Regions from separate parts of the Homo sapiens genome. Here region 2 is linked to region 1. Evidence: fine-mapped expression QTL. Tissue or cell type: whole blood. Region 1 holds a variant in brackets; the other region holds the start of a gene. All regions are shown on one strand. Distances are from middle to middle.

Region 1 (2,838 bases):
GGCAACAGAGTGAGATTCCATCTCAAAAAAAAAAAAAAACCAAAGTTTTAGTACCATCAGCTGTGGCTGAATCTTCCCGATTGATCAGGGCAAGGGTAGTGGAGCCTGTGGTGGGGCTGGACCCTGTGCAACTGTTCCTAAAACCCACAGGGAAAGTCACAGCCAGGATGTTTCCTGCCAGGGTCTGTGGTAAAAGTGAGGACATAGCTCACAGGGGAGGAAGTTTCACAACCCCTACACTCAGGCCCTGATGAAAGTGACTGTGGCTGGGCGCGGTGGCTCACGCCTGTAACCCCAGCACTTTGGAAGGCCGAGGCGGGTGGATCACGAGGTCAGGAGATCGAGATCATCCGTCTCTACTAAAAATACAAAAATTAGCTGGGAGTGGTGGCAGGTGCCTGTAATCGCAGCTACCCGGGATGCGGAGACAGGAGAATTGCTTGAACCCAGGAGGTGGAGGTTGCAGTGAGCTGAGATAACATCACTGCACTCCAGCCTTGTGACAGAGCAAGACTCCATCTCATTAGAAAAAAAAAAAAAAAGGAAGAAGAAGACTGCATCCTAGCAGCCCCTGGGCAACTTTTGAGTGCTATATGATGGTCTGCAGGTGACTTTGCTACTTTGGACCTCAGTCTATCCCTCTTTCAAATTGGAGGGTTGGCCTCATTGTACAAGCTGATGAGGATTTTAGCTGCTTGAAGTTTGGAGCCAGAACTGGCTTTCAGAGTCGTCTCCATCATTTTCCAGCACTGCTGTGTAGGCCACACACTCAGAGCTTCCCTCTCAGCCTCAGTTTCCCCATTCATAGGTGGAGAATGATGATTTCCATTTTCTAGCCAGTTCGTGGTGAGCTAGTGATGCTGGTGATGGTCATGGGAACAGTGGGTAGCACTCGGTATCCTCTCTATGTGACAACAAAGAGGCACAGAAACCTCAGATGTGGCCTCCCACGGGACAGTCATTCAATGCCAGTTAGAGACACCATTTTGTCACACTGCCTGTAAAAGCAAATCAGGCCAGGCATGGTGGCTCACGCCTGTAATCCCAGCACTTTGGGAGGCCGAGGCAGGTAGATCACCTGAGGTCAGGAGTTTGAGACCAGCCTGACCAACACAGTGAAACCCTGTCTCTACTAAAAATACAAAAATTAGCCGGGTGTAGTGGCACGCGCCTGTGGTCCCAGCTACTTGGAGGCTGAGGCACGAGAATCGCTTGAACCCGAGAAGAGGAGATTGCAGTGAGCCAAGATGGCGCCATTGCACTCCAGCCTGGGCAGAAAGAGCGAAACTGTCTCAGAAAAAGCAAAAAAA[C/AC]AAAACAAAAAAACGCAGCAAATCCATGTTCACAACGTGCTAGCGAGCAGCATAGGTTTTACTGATGATGGGTTTGGTTGGGGTAGAAGACAGTTTTCATCGTACACCATATAGTAAAGCAATTTAAATTCCTATTACTCATCTCCATAAACCCTCCAAATGTTCTTCCCAGGCACCTGACACCTCCTATTTCCTTTCCTTCTGCCTTTCCCCACGTGGCTTCTAAAATGCCTTTTTATCCTGAATGATTTAGTTTTACCTGCAAACAAGCAAACACCATACTGCAAAATTTCTCCAGTTAACAGATTTCATACTCAAGTGACTTCTCAAAGTATTCCCTCAAAGGAAACAGGTCTCTTCCGGAATGGCAAAAGGGAAATTCTGCTGATAGAAAAACAAGCATTTCTCTGTGCCTTTCTAGTACTAACACAGAGAAATGTTTCTCAGCAGAATCACTAGGGGAGCTTTATATTATAAAAACATGTATTTAGCCAGGCGTGGTGGTTCACACTTGTAATCCCAGCACTTTGGGAGGCTGAGGTGGGAGGATCACTTGAGCTCAGGTGTTCCAGACCAGCTTGGGCAACATAGTGAGACCTCATCTCTATTCAAAAAATTAATATAAGAAAAAAAGGAAAAAGAAACATATGTTTGATGGCCCCTGCCCCACCAAGATCCTGATTCAGGAAGTCTAGAGAGGGACCAATTTCATATACATATTTATATATTTATAATTCTTATTGTAATGTATATAAAATATTTCATCTATATATAATTTTTTTTTTTGAGACGGAGTCTCACTCTGTGGCCCAGGCTGGAGTGCAGTGGTGTGATCTCGGCTTACTGCAACCTCCGCCTCCCAGGTTCAGGAGATTGTCCTGCCACAGCCTCCCGAGTAGCTGGGATTACAGGCACACGCCACCATGCCTGGATAATTTTTGTATTTTTATTTATTTTTTTATTTTTAATTTGTTGTTGTTGTTGAGACAGAGTCTCACTCAGTCACCCAGGCTGGAGTGCAGTGGCGTGATCTCGGCTCACTGCAACCTCCACCTCCAAGGTTCAAGTGATTCTCGTGCCTCAGCCCCCCGAGTAGCTGGAATTACAGGTGCGCGATAGCACATCCGGCTAATTTTTGTATTTTTAGTAGAGACGGGGTTTCGCCATGTTGGCCGGGCTGGTCTCAAACTCCTGACCTCAAGTGATCTGCCCACCTTGGCCTCCGAAAGTGCTGGGACTACAGGCGTGAGCCACCACACCCAGCCTTCTATATATAATTTTTATAAATGTCCCTGATGATAATAATTTCTCTTCTAGTTGAAAACCAACAGGGCAAATTAGCACCTGCTTTGAATGGGTTTATCCTTGTGATGCTAGGCAAGTGAGGCCCCAAAACAGGGCTTACCCCGGGATAGTTCTTGGCTTCACACAGGAAAGAATTCAAGGGAGTGGCAAGCAGGTGGTGGTGACAACTTCTATTATTTATTTATTTATTTATTTATTTATTTGAGATGGTGTCTCTGTTACC
Region 2 (2,657 bases), 39 kb before region 1:
CCCGTGCTCTAGAAGGCGGGCTACTGCCCCGTCCCAAGCAGGGGAGGAGGACGAGCGAGGGCGTCACTCATTCTGTCCCCCGCGGAAGGTGGGCTAGCCGCGGAGGGGGGCGCGCAGGGGAGGGGGGCGCGCCGAGGGGAGGGGAGGGGAGGGGTCCACCCCGCCCTTAGGGCCTCCAGCCATCGCCCGAGATCAGAGCTCAGGAATGCGCAGCCAGACCCTGGAGGGTGAGGAAACACCCCTCCGGGATTCCTCGCAGCGCACCCGACTCTCCGGGCCACACCCAGCCCCTCAGTGTCCTCCCTCGTCCACTCCAGACGCCACACCCATCGCTCACGCTGAGAATCGGGCCCCGGAACCCCAGCTTCGGCTCTCGGCACCCAGAGGTGCGGGACGCAGCCCTGTCTTCTCCTCCTTTCCCAGCTCCTTCTGCACTTCGGAAGCACGGGGCTGGATCTTAACACCCCCCTCCCTCGGCCTTTCAGGAGCCCAAAGTTCCGATTCTGTCTGTCCCCTGGATGGGGAGGGGTCAGTAATTCTGAATTCCTTCCATTCTCATTCCCAAACCCAGGACACCTAACCCTAAGCGCTTCCCCTCCTAAAGGACCTCCACGTACCAGATTCCAGCCTCCAACTAGGGCACCTACGAGTCCCCATCTCTCTACTCCCGCAGACCCAGCCCCTCCTCCCTCAGACTCAGGAGTCCAGGCCCAGCTCCTCCTCCCTCAGACCCAGGAGTCCAGGCCCTCAGCCCCTCCTCCCTCGGACCCAGGAGTCCAGACCCCCCAGCCCCTCCTGCCTCGGACCCGGGAGTCCAGACCCCCAGCCCCTCCTCCCTCAGACCCCGGAGTCCAGGTCCCCTTCCCCACTCTTCCAGACGTATGACCTCCACAGTCCAGGTCCTCAGCCCTCTCCTCTGCAGAACCCCAAGAATCCTGGCCCAGCCCCAGTCTTTCTAGGGACCCAGACATTCTGAGACCCAGCCCATTCCTCTCTCTGGCCATAAAGACCCTAGACTGTTGCTTATGCCCTCTGGGGTCCCCACAACCTCACCTCAGGCAGCCAGTGGCGACTGCGGCTGAAGCAAAGACGACAGCGGCAGCTGGAAGGGTCTGAGGGCTGGGTGGGGTTGGAGGGCTGGGGAGCCAGCGCGGGCGGGACGGGGGCGGGGCCGGGGCGGGGCGCAGCTCCGGCTAGGGCGGTGGACAGGGACTTCCCCGAGTCTGGGCTATCCCAGCCCCGCCCCGAGGCGGGGCCAAGAGCAGACCACGCCCCCCAGAGTAAAAGTAGCGTGGAGCTCCCGCCCCACCCCAGTGAGCAGGGTGGAGGGCTGAGGTCACGGTTGCCGTGGTGACAAAACAGGAAGACACAACAGCTGGCGGCGTGGAGACTCCTGGGGGCTGCCCTCCTCGACACAGCCCTAGAGGAGTCTCCCGGGTAGGCCAGGGAAGACCGTTACCATAGAAACCCCGCATGTTTAGGGTTTGTTTAGTGCAGAGCCCCCCAGCTCAGGTCCCCGCCCCCGTCTCACCTCACTCCTTTCTTCCGCTCCCTTCCTACCCCCTCCTTCCTGGTCTGTTCCGCCCCCACCCCTTCCTTGCCGGATGAAACCTTAGACACCTGGGTCGCAGCGGATTGGGGGACCAGGCCCCTCAGTTCAATGGGGGGGCTAGGATCTCTGTCTCTTGGAGCCCTGAGGGAGAGCAGAATTGAGAGCAGTATTCCTGGGCTTTAGGTGGTTCTGGGCTACGATCCCTGACTGATGGGTCTCCCCAAGAAACAGAGGCTAGATTCCTGTATTTAAGGACTTGAAGGGGCGGCAAAATGCTCCCCTAGTACCCACTGGCACCGGGCGCCGCAGGGTAAGGGACTCGGGCTGGACGCAGGTCTCAGATATCACAGTGGATAGGGGTGGGGTGTGTTGGGGGCAAAATTCCTGGGAGCTAGCGCGGTAGCAGTTGGGGGCCCGGATTCCTGGGCTCCACAGGATGCCTAGGCTGAGGCCCAGATTCTTGGCTCAAAAGAACAATCAGGCCTGGGCGCGGTGGCTCACGCCTGTAATCCCAGCATTTCGGGAGGCTGAGGAGGGAGGATCCCTTGAGCCCAGGAGTTCGAGACCAGCCTGGGCAACATAAGGAGACTCTGCTCTATTAAAAATAAATCATCATGATCATCATAATAGAACCATTAAAGCTCAGACTCGGGTTTTCCGAGCAGGTGTTGCAAGCCTAGCCGCCTGGGTCTGGAAGGCAGCGATATTTTTGGCCTACATTCCTGACTCCTGGATGGAGGGAGGGACTCAGAATTTTAATGAGGATGGGGCTGGGGCTGGGGCTTGGGGCTCTGGATTCACGGATCCTGCAAGAGGGGAAGGGATCCAAGGGGCTGGTGGGCCCGAAGCCCCAGGGCAGGGAAGGGATGCAGGGTGTGTTTTTAAAAGGCGGCTCTGCGGCCCTAAAACGGACTGCCGGAGCCAAAAGAAAAAGAGGGAGCTGAGGGTCGGGATGTCGGGCCCCCGGGGAGGGGCAGGGCGGGGACCTGGGACGCCTGAGTCCCTCCCTCTGGCCGCGTTCACTCACCGCGCTCTGCAGTCGTCCCGGGCGCGGCCTGGCTGGCTGCGGCCGCTGGGCGGGGCCTGGTGGCGGCTGCGGATGCTC

The links. PIP is the estimated chance that this variant, and not a neighbour inherited with it, causes the effect.
Region 2: it holds the start of MYADM, and the variant in region 1 is fine-mapped to the expression of MYADM in whole blood (INTERVAL, PIP 0.92).

Annotation. Positions count from the first base shown.
Region 1 is chr19:53,827,585-53,830,422 of GRCh38, reverse strand. No RefSeq gene overlaps it. Among named protein-coding and RNA genes, the nearest start is that of NLRP12, 4.7 kb to the right of the region's middle. RefSeq lists an enhancer at 99-868. The variant C/AC (reference allele first, on the strand shown) is at 1,311.
Region 2 is chr19:53,866,340-53,868,996 of GRCh38, reverse strand. MYADM (myeloid associated differentiation marker) reads right to left here and starts at 1,114. Exons shown (of 3, transcript NM_138373.5): 1 at 1,054-1,114. It overlaps MYADM-AS1 (MYADM antisense RNA 1), which reads left to right. Exons shown (of 3, transcript NR_184033.1): 1 at 1-88. RefSeq lists enhancers at 1-224, 1,334-2,309.